Linked DNA regions of Homo sapiens. The protein of the gene in region 1 interacts with the protein of each later gene in a pairwise test. Each region holds a gene or a part of one and is shown in the gene's direction. Other genes may lie near its edges.

What was found. Proteins that work in one complex are often made in the same cells at the same time.
Region 2: the proteins of HNRNPM (region 1) and LMO2 interact in binary tests that used the Homo sapiens proteins (3 or more experiments, as listed by UniProt).
Region 3: the proteins of HNRNPM (region 1) and HNRNPF interact in binary tests that used the Homo sapiens proteins (3 or more experiments, as listed by UniProt).
Region 4: the proteins of HNRNPM (region 1) and TSGA10 interact in binary tests that used the Homo sapiens proteins (3 or more experiments, as listed by UniProt).

What each region holds. Positions count from the first base shown.
Region 1 is NC_000019.10:8,472,475-8,475,974, forward strand, and holds part of HNRNPM (heterogeneous nuclear ribonucleoprotein M), read left to right. Parts: intron 1-1,189; coding exon 1,190-1,234; intron 1,235-1,692; coding exon 1,693-1,770; intron 1,771-3,500. UniProt on the Homo sapiens protein: Pre-mRNA binding protein in vivo, binds avidly to poly(G) and poly(U) RNA homopolymers in vitro. Involved in splicing.
Region 2 is NC_000011.10:33,861,077-33,864,576, reverse strand, and holds part of LMO2 (rhombotin-2), read left to right. Parts: intron 1-3,500. UniProt on the Homo sapiens protein: Acts with TAL1/SCL to regulate red blood cell development. Also acts with LDB1 to maintain erythroid precursors in an immature state.
Region 3 is NC_000010.11:43,388,687-43,392,186, reverse strand, and holds part of HNRNPF (heterogeneous nuclear ribonucleoprotein F), read left to right. Parts: intron 1-3,500.
Region 4 is NC_000002.12:99,001,443-99,004,942, reverse strand, and holds part of TSGA10 (testis-specific gene 10 protein), read left to right. Parts: intron 1-3,500. UniProt on the Homo sapiens protein: Plays a role in spermatogenesis. When overexpressed, prevents nuclear localization of HIF1A.

The sequences.
Region 1 (3,500 bases):
ACACACACACCCCATGTCTGACATCTAAACAGAAAGACTGGGGGTTGGGGAGGAAGTCTTGGTGTTTTTAGGAACTGGTTTTTATTTTGAAGATTTTACCTTTAACAGGGATTGATTTATTGAGACGGAATTTTGCTCTTGTTGCCCAGGCTGGAGTGCAGTGGCTCAATCTCAGCTTACCGCACTCAATCTCTGCCTCCTGGGTTCAAGTGATTCTCCTGCCTCAGCCTCCCAAGTAGCTGGGATTACAGGCATGTGCCACCACACCCAGCTAATTTTTTGTATTTAGTAGAGACAGGGTTTCACCATGTTGGTCAGGCCGGGCTGGAACTCCTGACCTCAGGTGATCCACCCGCCTCGGCTTCCTGAAGTGCTGGGATTACAGGCGTGAGTCACCACGCCCACCCTTAACAGGGATTCTTAAAAAAAATCTACTTCTGTTCCCTAAAATTTTCTAAAAAGTTTATGTTCCATAGAATGTGTCTTATAATTCTATTTCATGTTTAATACTGCCTAACTTGAGGCCTGGTGTGGTGGCTTATGCCTGTAATCCCAGCAATTTGGAGGCCGAGGGTTTGAGACTAGTCTAGGCGACATAGACTCCATCTCTACAAAATATAAAAAAAATCAGCCAGGTGTGGTGGCGTAGTCCCAGCTACTTGGGAGGCTGAGGCAAGAGGATCACTTGAGCCTGGGATGTTGAGGCTGTAGGGAGCTGTGACCATGCCACTGCATTCCAGCCCCAGTGACAGAAGGAGACCCTGTCTCAAAAACAAAAAAAACACAAAAACCCTGCCCGACTGGGTCATTAAAGTATGTAGATCCCTCAGAAAAAGATTAGCCAGGCGTGGTAGCAGGCGCCTGTAATCTCAGCTAGTCGGGAGGCTGAGGCAGGAGAATTGCTTGAACCCGGGAGGTGGAGGTTGCAGTGAGCCAAGATTGTGCCATTGCATTCCAGCCTGGGTGACAGAGCAATACTGTGTTTAAAAAAAAAAAAAATAGCTATATGATATTTGACAGTTGAAATGGTAAGGGCTTTTTTTCTTGCTGATTAAAATATATAAAATATACTTGTCATCAGGGATTTTCTTTTGAGTTCTTTTGCTGGTTTGGAATTATGCTTTTTAAGTTCAAACGTTATTTACTGCTTTGACATAATTTTAGTTTGCATTGACTTTTTCTTTTTAAGGAATGGGAATGGAAGGCATAGGATTTGGAATAAATAAAATGGGAGGTAAGAAATTTAAAATGAAGTACAAGCATAATCACTTTTAGGCATAGTTTTCTCTCTTTCCTCTTTTCTTTCTTGTTTAAACCCTGCATGAAATTCTCTTTGGTTTCAGTTTGAGTCTAGAAATGACTTCCTCCTGCCTGTCCATCCTTCCAGCGGGTGTCTTGGCTTTTGGTTCTGGCTGTCTCACTAACTAGCTCTGTGACCTTGGGCAGACCACTCCATCTCTATGCCTCTTTTTGCTTGTCTATTCATTGAGGGGGTTGGATCAGACCAGCTTTTTGAAGATGGGTGATTTTTAAACAAGGGTGCTAGCATTTTTTTTGTTTTTCAAAAGCCTTTAAACTTGGTAAGTTCTTGGCAGAAGATACCCCAGTTGAAACATGTGATAGAATTTTTCTTTCCCTGCTTAGTCTAAGCAGTCTTGTTGGATGATGCTGAAATGTGAACCTCTCTTGCAGGAATGGAGGGGCCCTTTGGTGGTGGTATGGAAAACATGGGTCGATTTGGATCTGGGATGAACATGGGCAGGATAAATGGTAAGCATCGTGTTTTCTTCCTGCTTTCACTCACCCTTTGCCGGCTGTTGCCTCTCAGGTGACTTTTAGGCTGCAGACCCACTGAATAAGTGGTTTCTCACTTCTGCTTTTCAACCGAATCAAATGTCTTTTGAATTGCCTTAAATATTTCAAAAACTAGACATAATAGTAGACTTACTTCACTTGGTCGCTAGTCTTTTGAGATGTCCTGTGTTCCCAAGCTCTGCAGTAATTTTCGAGTACAGTGTTAAAAAGCATGTACACGTTCGTGGTTATGGTCTCCGAGTATGAGGGATTCTTTAAAGTTTGTAATCAAGTTTGTCTCTGGGAGTGCTGCAAAGGGTTGTTCTTGGTCATCTGCCCCAGCTACAAGTTGTCTATAGAGGCGTTAATAAAAATCACAGGCTCTTTTAATTTAGCATTTACATAATGCAAATTCTGGTTTAGTATAATTCAAATCCTCCACCAACTTTTTTTTTTTTTTTTTTGAGACAGGGTCTCACTCTGTCACCTAGGCTGGAGTGCAATGGTGCGATCTTGGCTCACTGCAACCTCCGCCTCCCAGGTTCAAGTGATTCTCCTGCCCCAGCCTCCTGAGTAGCTGGTATTACAGGTGTGTGCCACCATGCCTGGATAATTTTTATATGTTTAGTAGAGTCGGAGTTTCACCATGTTGGCCAGGCTGGCCTCGAACTCCTGACTTCATGTGATCCGCCCGCCTCAGCCTCCCAAAGTGCTGGGATTACAGGCGTGAGCCACCGTGCTCGGCACCTGCCCCCAACTTTTTAGCAGAAATATAATAATATAATAACAATGTAGTATTTCATTTAGTCCTTGTGAGAACCACATGATATGTACATACTGCTATCCTTGTTTCATCTGAAACTGAGGCACAGAGAGTGACATGCCTAGGTCAAGTGACTGGTAAACAGTGGTGCCTGCATGTGAACCCAGGCTGTCTGGCTCCAGAGCCTGGCACTTCATCATGTGGGAATCCTGCCTTTTAGAAGTGCCTCCAGCACAGCACTTGGCCCAGGGCACCAGCAGGGCTGTAGAGTGTGCATGAGAAATTGTAAATTTTCCTTTTTGAAATCCTTTATGTGTTGGTGACTCTTTGACCTTCCCCTTCACTGCAGGAAAGCTGCTGCTTTTTTACACAGAAACTTTCTTGGACTGAGAAGTCATTAGGGATTTAGGTATAAACCTTCCTTTGCGGGTCTGCCATAACAAAGGATGTGAAAATGGTACAAGGACAGACATCATTGTCAGGCTTGAAAGGCGGCTGTCCCTGATGATCAGGCCCTTCTTCCGGTGCACAGGGAGCAGTGGGGCATGATGTGTGTTGCCCTCTTCATGGGTGCCTTGTTCTAGAAGCTGGTAAAAGGATGTAGGAAAGTTGTCACCATTAGTAATAAAGCAACAGAGGTCTGCGTTTCCAGTGTACATTCAAGCTTGCCTGTAACTTGTGTGTGCATGGGATTTTAATTTTTAAAAAAAGTTTCAGAAATCTGGCTTGGTAAAATGTTACTCAGAGCAGATTAGTCTGGGTGTGCTGGCTCACGCCTGTAATCCCAACACTTTGGGAGGCTGGGGTAAGAGGATTGCTTGAGCTCAGGAGTTCAAGATCAGCCTAGGCAACACTGCGAAACCCCATCTCTCTCTTTTTTTTTTTTTTTTTTTTTTTTAAGAACAGATTAGTCATTAGGGAATTTGAGTTGTTGCTGTGAGGA
Region 2 (3,500 bases), on another chromosome or scaffold:
CCCTCGGAAGGGAGGCTGGGTGGTCCATGGACATCTGCAGTCGGTGTGTGTTGCCCCTTACCCTGCTCCAGGCTCGGACACCACCTATAGAAAGAGGTCAGACTGCAGAGGCTGAGTCTCAGCTCCTGTGCTGAGAAGCAGAGGGCATTTCTTCCTGTTTGAGAAGCATGTTCTCAGGGTTACGTTCCTATGTGGTAAAATACTAATATCTTTAAAGGCAAGAGAATTGTATACCCAAAATTCAGAAAAGTGCTTCCCTTGGGGAGCGGGAGAAGCTAGGGGATGGGATTGAGGAGGAGTACACACGGAGGATCAGAGGGACTGGGAGTGTTTCTAAGTTTGGAGGTGGGCTCTGAGGACCTCATTTGAATGCTTCAGAACATATATGTATGTTATAAATTTTTTTTGTATGACTCCAGTATTATATGATGAGAAATTTAAAAATAGAAAGCATATGGAGCTCCAAGCATTGACTCATAGCAGGAAGGCAGTCTTCGAAGAGCAGAAAGGCAAAGGCCCTGTAGGCAGTTGGAGGTTTGAGTCCCAATACCATTGCTTCCCAGCTTGGTGGCCTTGGGCAAGTTATTTAACCTTCCTAAGCCTCGATTTCCTTATCTGTAAAATGGGGATGATAATAGCACCTACCTCTAAGGATGTGGGGAGGATTTGATGGAATAATGCAGATAAACTACTTGGCTTGGTATGGATCAAATAGATGTTAGCTGCTCTTACATAATCATTATTTTCCAATCTAATGAGCAAAGGGATGGAAGAATGGAAGAGTAAAATAGGAACTCGACAACACCAAGTAAGACAGGAGCTGAGGACATCTCCCATGCTCTGGGCCATCCTATTGGCCATCCGAATTTTCCAGCACTGTGTGAAAGCCTTTGCCTAGAATGTACTAGTGTTTCTAGTTTCCGATGAGCTGCTGTGGAGGTAACTGTCTCTGTGCCCTCTACTGTCAGATCTGCTCAACTGTGTAGCTGTCAGTATTTCTCCGTTTTCCTGGAGCAGAGGGTCTGTGAAGCATGCTTCCCTGATACACCAGGACCATCCAACCCATGGAAGCTTGTTGAGACCTCAGCGCCCTTGGCTGCTGGGCCAGCTTTTCCTCCCAAACCTGCCCTCAGAGCATTTTACATTATAGAAACAAAACAAAACCAAAAAAACTGCAGGCAGTTTCACAGTGAAGGAAGCTTTACCTAAAGACTGTTAGAAGAAGCTTTTTGTCCTTGAATTCCCAGATAAAGTTCTTGCAGTCCTTGCAGATATGGTGGTTCCGAGAAAATAAGTAGGATTTTGCAATGATCATGCTTATAATTTTGGTCAGTTTTCTTTTTTTTAAGTCACAGAAAATAGAACTTGGATAAATACAGACCTGGTTTTGCTCACTCCCAGTTTGCCAAGTCAGTGAGAGGGCAGACGGGTAAATGATTCCCATCGGACCCTTGACTCCATCCCTGTCAAATCATTTGAATCTTATTAACTGAAGTGCAGATAGAGTAAGGTCAGAAGAGCCCCAGCTTCTCCCTATCTCTACCGTTTTATATAACATTCAGGAATAAAACCAGTGCTGCCTGGGCTTGTTAATCCTTTCCATTTTCAAAAAGGAGAGGAAAAAAAAAACAGTCTGGGAGAACCCAATGTTAATTAACTTGTGTCTTGGTGACATGAAATAATTCTTCTCCCTGCCACATTCCTAGGCAACATGTTAATTAACTCTGCATTAGTGCAGGCATTTCCAGCCATTCTTTAATATTTATATTATTGTTATTAAAATGGGCAGCAGAGAGCTTAAGATGGGACATCTCTTGACAGAGGAGAAAAATTGTCTTTTGCGTCAGGGATGGTCCTTTAGCCAAGGTCTTGTTTACTGGCATTCTTAGTATATCTGGCAGGATCTTTTAACAAGGCAAGTTGGAGGAGTAACTGAACGGGCCCTCTAATGTGTTTGAGTTCTTCACCCCTAGGATAACTTGTCCCCGTGAGGATTTCCAATGGCTGAGTTGCCTGTTACAGTTCTTTTCCGACATTTAGCTTCAAACATTCATGAGACCCCCATGCAGAACCTCAACTCTGCTGCTGTGTTGTATTGTTGGGAACCCAAGAGCAGCTGTTCATGTCTGTGCTGAGCCAGATCTCCTTGGATCCCTTTTCACTAATTCTTGTGTGCTGGGAGTGGTGGGGTGGCGGTGATGGCAGTGGTTTTGCTTTTAACAGCCAGCACCTGAATCTGTTAGAGCCAGAAGTATGCCTGCCCCAACTAGACCCCCAACGGACCTTAACCAGTGACAGACATGGTGGGAGTACCAAGCCCCGCAGCCTTGCCTGGAGCCAGGCATAACTTATATTCCAGGGTCCCTCCCCTCTGAGGGACTTTGCCTGAGGATACAACTTGGCTTGGCTTCCTCCCCTTCCCTCCAGCCTCCCCTGCTGCCTTCCAGGTTTTTCCTGAGAATGCCTCATTCATAAATCACTGGCACATCAATCCTTGCCTCAGGGGCTGCTTCTGGGATATCCAGCCTAAGATACCAATTCTTGGTGCCAGAGGTTAATGCTCAAGTTAGGTGTCAAGTCCCGGCTTATTTTTTACTAATATTAGAATCTCCGAATCCCAGAGCTGGAAGGGGCTACAGAGACCTTCTTTTTCAGTTCCCTTGCTTTATGGCTTAAGTCACAGAAGCCTGTACAGGGGACTCCATTTGCTCAGGTCACCTGGCAAGTTAGAGGTCATGCTGGGACCTGAACTTGTCTCCCACATATTCGTCCTTTGTCCTTCCCTTCATAGCTGCCTGATGTGGGTTGTAATTTACCCCCTGACTTCCCTTTAATAAGCTCCCTCCTTCCTTAAGGATCGCACACCCCAGGCAGTTGGATTCATTCCATGCACACTGTTTTCTCAGTCGTTCATCCTTGCTCAGGCCCAAACTTAACTTACAGAGCAGTCAGGAAACCAGAACTGTCTTTCCACTCTGTGACCTCCAATGTGGCGGTTACCTGCAGCTCCACCATCTGCTACGTTGGGATAAAATGTTCTCCCCCCAGTAATGAGTTTGCTCCCAGGCGGTGCTTTGAAAACACTCAGAGATCTTCAAATGGAAAGCAGGATTCAGAGGCAAATTAGCTGGCCCTGGCCCGAACAATGAGCTCTCCACTCACAGACCACCTCTTGTCAATTCCATTAATCTCGCCCAAATATTGCAAAATGTGTCAACTGCCCTTAGGTCCCCTACAACCTCTCAGAATGTACCCACTGATTCTCTGATATCCTGAAATCAACCAGAACTTCCAATAAGAGCAAGCATTCACCTAAAACTGTCCTAAAGGTTTTATGTAGAAACCACCTGCTAACATGCTATGTTTTCAGCCACGAGTGAAAATTACTTCCTGCAGCAAGACTGGCACAGCTGGGAATACACCCAAGATGTGTTAAAACATAACCAGCGTTGGCTTAGCCCTTGACCATGGGTGCCCTGACATGCTTCGTTTGGTTGTTT
Region 3 (3,500 bases), on another chromosome or scaffold:
AATGATCTGCCTGCCTTGGCCACCCAAAGTGCTGGGATTACAGGCGTGAGCCACTGCGCTCAACCTAGGTGTCCACCACTATGCTCGGCTAATTTTTGTATTTTTGGTAGAGGCGGGATTTCACCATGTTGGTCAGGCTGGTCTTGAACTCCTGGCTCCGGTTATCCACCCTCCTTGACCTCCTAAAGTGCTGGGATTACAGGCGGTGAGCCACCACACGTGGCCTTGATCATGCAGTTTTAATGGAGGGGAGTGGAAGTGACAGTAGAGGCCTTTTGACAAGATTTTGCTGAACAAATCAACAAGTAGCTAGAGGCAAAGTTGGCACAGGGGAGGTATGACATGATTGGGTAGAACTGAGCATGTTTAATTACCAAGTAGACAGGGCTCAGTGGAGAAAGGGGAAAAGGAAAAAAAGAAGAAAGCATGGCTCCGGGGTATGTGAGGTTGGACCCAGAGCAGAGCTGTTGTTCACGATGTCCGCTGTAAGGGGCCCACTACGTGCTTACAAACTCCTGGACTCTGACTTGACTTCACAAAGTCCACTTCCAAGAGTAATGTCAACCAGCTGGAGAGGAGGTGAGAGTCTGTAAGGCTGCCCCAGACATCTGAAGGGCTTTGGACAAGCAGGGTGCTGGGGTAGGACAGTGGGCGATATTGAGGGCCCGCTTACTCTATGGCTGTTCACTCTGATTTTCTTTTTTTTTTCTTGTGTGGTGGGTTTTTTTTTGGAGTTAGTCTCGCTCCGTCACCCGGGCTGGAGTACAATGGTGCGATCTCCACTCACTGAAAACTCCGCTTCCTGGGTTCAGGTGATTCTCTTGCCTCAGCCTCCGTAGTGGCTGGGACTACAGGCGCCCACCACCACGTCCAGGTAATTTTTTTTTTTTTTTTGAGACAGAGTCTTGCACTGTCGCCCAGGCTGGAGTGCAGTGGTGCGATCTTGGCTTACTGCAACCTCTGCCTCCCAGGTTCAAGCGATGCTCCTGCCTCAGCCTCCCAAGTAGCTGGGACTACAGGTGCCCACCATCACGCCCGGCTAGTTTTTTGTATTTTTAGTCGAGACAGAGGTTTTGTCTATTGGAACTCATGATCTCAAGTGGTCCCACCCACCTCGGCCTCCCAAAGTGCTAGGATTATAGGTGGGAGCCACTGTGCCTGGCCTCACCCTGATTTCTACAGTATTTCACAACTTGGGGGCAGCATTAGCCACCAGAGAACATTTGGGAATGTCTGGAGACATTCGGTTGTCAGAACTGGAGGTGGAGGGTGCTACTGGCATCTAGTGGGCAGAGACCAGGGATGCAGCTAAACATCCTACAGTGCCTGGGCCTGCCTCCACAACACAAAGAACTGTCTGGTCCAAAATGTCAGTAGTCCTGAGGCTGAGAAATTGTAGCTTAGAGGCACCGTTTCGCCTGGCTGTGTGCAGCTGAGCCACTCAGTACATCCATGGAGTAGTCAGATATTTGTTTGGAATCTTCCAGAGCTCTGGTTTTACTGGGCGCGTACAGTTAAGAAGTTCATTGAATGAATTCCATGTATTGTGAGGAAGGAATGTAAAATGATACTTGCTCTAAGCTGGATTATGAAGAATGAGGAGAGAAAGAGGCTGTGTGGATAAGGAAGCCAAGGTCTCTACAAAGGAGGGGGATAGCAGTTGTGGTGGAGGGAGTAGGATGTGATTAGGTGGGGTTTCCTGCAGGGAATGGTGAAATCATTGGAGGTAGGAGTCCAGGAGAAAATGGTTAGTGGATTATGGCTTCATCTCCCCTACCCGGAACGATGGCTGGACCTAAGGCTAGGAACAGAACTCGAGGGAGGCCTTCAGATACTTTTCATGAGTGAGGAGCAAGACCAGGGTATGGTCAAAGACAAAAGGACAGGCGGTGCCTAGCCTGACCCAGTGTTGGGAATGGAATTGCATAAGAAGCCCCCACCTGTAATTGAGCTGTCCCAGACCCATTATCCCAAGAGACACAATACAAACTTGCCCTGACTCTCCAAGGAGGAGCTTCTGAACTGTTAGCACAGAATTCCCTCCGTGGACAGGAGAGGAAGAATCTGCTGTGACCTTGCTCTGCCAGATCAGCATGTTGCAGTGGCCATATGCAGGGGATTTAGATAAGGCCCTGGGGAGGCGGAGACCATTACTTTCTAAGGTGGAGGCTAAACCCCAGGGTTTGTTGCAGACCCAAAGCACAGTTTGAGAATTGGGGATAGGATTATTTATGCCCAATCATTTGCCGTTCAGGATTATTTTATAAAAGTTGATGGAGTTTATGTACATAGTCAATAATTTGAGGTGGGCAATGAGCAATCCAGGTTAGGCTCCCCTTGACTCTCTTCCCAGAGGCTTCCATGTTCCACTCTCATTAGCAAGGGTGACATCTTTTAGTTAGGCTGTATACTTTGAAAGCCCTTGCATTCCAAATCACAGTTCGTGAGTAAATGCCGAGTGTTTGGTCTTGGTGATGTGTTCAGGATATCACATACTGTTCTGTTTCATTTGTGCCATTATGCTTGTTATTGGGAGAGGAGACACATCTTGTTATCTTTATAATCTGGTGTAGACACAGGTAAATTTGAAAGATTTACACAATTATCCTTTTAGACGTTGTCAATTTGAAATGATGAAGCACTGTATGATAATATGTCATTATCTGCAATGGCTACATCAAACTTTAAAATTACTAATTTTCCCTGAAGCTAGTGCAGTTGAGCATTTATTTAGTATGAATTTGCTTTTCCTTTTCTTAAATTACACTTACCTTTACTTTTTGTCTGTTTTTTAAATTGTGGGGTTTTCTTATGGAGCTTTTTTCCCCACATGATGAGCCCATATTTCTTGAAAAGGCCACCAGCTATATCTATTATGCTTGATGTAAAATGACACTTTGAAACATTCGATTTCCAGCTGTGCATGGTGGCTCACGCCAGTAATTCCAGCACTTTGGGCAGCTGAGGTGGGCGGATCACCTGAGGTCAGGAGTTCAAGACCAACCTCGCCAACATGGTGAAATCCCGTATCTCCTAAAAGTATAAAAAATTAGCCGTGCGTGGCGGCTGGTGCATGTAATCCCAGCTACTCAGGAGGCTGAGACAGGAGAATTTCGTGAACCCAGGAGGCGGAGGTTGCAGTGAGCCGAGACAGCACCACTGCACTCCAGCCTGGGCGACAGTGAGACTCTTGTCTCAAAAAAAAAAAAAAAAAAAAAAATTCCATATACTCCTATGCTCTTTTTGAGCGTCACCCTTGACAGTGTTCATATAAAAATACGTCTTTGGCCCCATGATACTGCAGTGTTTTTCTTGCTTGTGACTATGTTATAGACCCTGCTGTCTAGGTCAGCTGCTCCTCTTTCTCAGAAGACTGCCTTCCAGTGTGTGGTTGGCCTTACTCTGAGTTTGGACTTCAGGTGCCATGTACCACCCTGGTGGGAAGGGCATTTCTCAGCCCTCTTGCGATTGCCCTTTCTTCCCGATGCCCTCTTCCAGAT
Region 4 (3,500 bases), on another chromosome or scaffold:
GTGGATAAGCTTTTTGATGTGCTGCTGGATTTGGTTTGTGAGTATTTTATTGAGGAGTTTTGCATCAGTGTTCATCAAGGATATTGGTCTAAAATTCTCTTTTTTTGTTGTGTCTCTGCCAGCCTTTGGTATCAGGATGATGCTGGCCTCATAAAATGAGTTAGGGAGGATTCCCTCTTTTTCTATTGATTGGAATAGTTTCAGATGGAATGGTACCAGCTCCTTCTTGTACCTCTGGTAGAATTCGGCTGTGAATCCATCTGGTTCTGGACTTTTTTTGGTTGGTAAGCTATTTATTATTGCCACAGTTTCAGAGCCTGTTATTGGTCTATTCAGAGATTCAACTTCTTCCTGGTTTAGTCTTGAGAGCGTGTATGTGTTGAGGAATTTATCCATTTCTTCTAGATTTTCTAGTTTATTTGCGTAGAGGTGTTTGTAGTATTCTCTGATGGTAGTTTGTATTTCTGTGAGATCGGTGGTGACATCCCCTTTATCATTTTTTATTGCATCTGGATTCCCTCTTTTTCTATTGATTGGAATAGTTTCAGAAGGAATGGTACCAGCTCCTCTTTGTACCTCTGGTAGAATTCGGCTGTGAATCTGTCTAGTCCTGGACTTTTTTTGGTTGGTAAGCTATTAATTATTGCCTCAATTTCAGAGCCTGTTATTGGTCTATTCAGAGATTCAACTTCTTCCTGGTTTAGTCTTGGGAGGGTGTATGTGTCCAGGAATTTATCCATTTCTTCTAGATTTTCTAGTTTATTTGCATAGAGGTGTTTAAAGTATTCTCTGATGGTTGTTTGCATTTCCGTGGGATCAGTGGTGATATCCCCTTTATCATTTTTTATTGCATCTATTTGATTCTTCTCTCTTTTCTTCTTTATTAGTCTTGCTAGTGGTGTGTCAATTTTGTTGATCTTTTCAAAAAACCAGCTCCTGGATTCATTGATTTTTTGAAGGGTTTTTTATGTCTCTATTTCCTTCAGTTCTGCTCTGATCTTAGTTATTTGTCTTCTGCTAGCTTTTGAATGTGTTTGCTCTTGCTTCTATAGTTCTTTTAATTGTGATGTTAAAGTGTCGATTTTAGATCTTTCCTGCTTTCTCTTGTGGGCATTTAATGCTATAAATTTCCCTCTACACACTGCTTTAAATGTGTCCCAGATATTCTGGTATGTTGTGTCTTTGTTCTCATTAGTTTCAAAGAACATCTTTCTGCCTTCATCTCGTTATTTACCCAGCAGTCATTCAGGAGCAGGTTGTTCACTTTCCATGTAGTTGTGCAGTTCTGAGTCAGTTTCTTAATCCTGAGTTCTAATTTGATTGATTGCACTATGGTCAGAGAGACAGTTTGTTATAATTTATGTTCTTTCACATTTGCTAAGGAGTGCTTTACTTCCAACTATGTGGTCAATTTTGGAATAAGTGTGATGTGGTGCTGAGAAGAATGTATATTCTTTTTATTTGGGTTGGAGAGTTCTGTAGATGTCTATTAGGTCCACTTGGTGCAGAGCTGAGTTCAAGTCCTGGATATCCTTGTTAAGTTTCTTTCTCGTTGATCTGTCTAATGTTGACAGTGGGGTGTTAAAGTCCCCCATTATTATTTTGTGGGAGTCTAAGTCTCTTTGTACATCTCTAAGGACTTGCTTTATGAATCTGGGTGCTCCTGTATTGATTGGGTGCATAGATATTTAGGATAGTTAGCTCTTCTTGTTGAATTGATCCCTTTACCATTATGTAATGGCCTTCTTTGTCTCTTTTGATCTTTGTTGGTTTAAAGTCTGTTTTAGGCCAGGCACGGTAGCTTACGCCTATAATCCCAGCACTTTGGGAGGCCGAGGCAGGTGGATCACGAGGTCAGGAGTTCAAGACCAGCCTGGCCAAGATGGTGAAACCCTGTCTCTACTAAAAATACAAAAATTAGCCGGGCATGGTGGCACTTGCCTATAATCTCAGCTACTCAGAAGGCTGAGGCAGAGAATTGCTTGAACCTGGGAGGTGGAGGTTGCAGTGAGCCAAGATCGCACCACTGCACTCCAGCCTGGGCGACAGAGTGAGACTCTTTCTCAAAAAAAAAAAAAAAGTTTGTTTTATCAGAGACTAGGATTGTAACCCCTGCTTTTTGTTGTTGTTGTTTTCCATTTGCTTGTTAGACCTTCCTCCATCCCTTTATTTTGAGCCTATGTGTGTCTCTGCATGTGAGGTGGGTCTCCTGAATACAGCACACTGATGGGTCTTGACTCTTTATCCAATTTGCCAGTCTGTGTCTTTTAATTGGAGTATTTAGCCCATTTACGTTTAAGGTTAATATTGTTATGTGTGAATTTGATCCTGTCATTATGTTGTTAGCTGGTTATTTTGCTCGTTAGTTGATGTAGTTTCTTCTTAGCCTCGATGGTCTTTACAATTTGGCATGTTTTTGCAGTGGCTGGTACCAGTTGTTCCTTTCCATGTTTAGTGCTTCCTTCAGGAGCTCTTTTAGGGCAGGCCTGGTGGTGACAACATCTCTCAGCATCTGTTTGTCTGTAAAGTATTTTATTTCTCCTTCACTTACGAAGCTTAGTTTGGCTGGATATGAAATTCTGGGTTGAAAATTCTTTTCTTTAAGAATGTTGAATATTGGCCCCCACTGTCTTCTGGCTTGTGGAGTTTCTGCCAAGAGATCTGCTGTTAGTCTGATGGGCTTCCCCTTGTGGGTAACCGGACCTTTCTTTCTGGCTGCCCTTAATATTTTCCCTTCATTTCAACTTCGGTGAATCTGACAATTATGTGTCTTGGAGTTGCTCTTCTCGAGGAGTATCTTTGTAGCGTTCTCTGTATTTCCTGAATTTGAATGTCGGCCTGCCTTGCTAGATTGGGGAAGTTCTCCTGGATAATATCCCGCAGAGTGTTTTCCAACTTGGTTCCATTCTCCCCGTCACTTTCAGGTACACCAATCAGATGTAGATATGGTCTTTTCACATAGTCCCATATTTCTTGGAGGCTTTGTTCGTTTCTTTTTATTCTTTTTTCTCTAAACTTCTCTTCTTGCTTCATTTCATTCATTTGATCTTCAATCACTGATACCTTTTCTTCCACTTGATTGAATTGGCTACTGAAGCTTGTGCATGCGTCATGTAGTTTTCGCGCCATGGTTTTTAGCTCCGTCAGGTCATTTAAGGTCTTCTCTATGCTGTTTATTCTAGTTAGCCATTCGTCTAATCTTTTTCCAAGGTTTTTAGCTTCTTTGCGATGGGTTCAAACGTCCTCCTTTAGCTTGGAGAAGTTTGTTATTACTGATCCTCTGAAGTCTACTTCTGTCAACTCGTTAAAGTCATTCTCTGTCCAGTTTTGTTCTGTTGCTGGTGGGGAGCTGTGTTCCTTTGGAGGAGAAGAGACACTCTGATTTTTGGAATTTTCAGCTTTTCTGCTCTGGTTTCTCCCCATCTTTGTGGTTTTAATCTACCTTCGGTCTTTGATGTTGGTGACCTACAGATGGGGTTTTGGTGTGGGTGTCCTTTTTG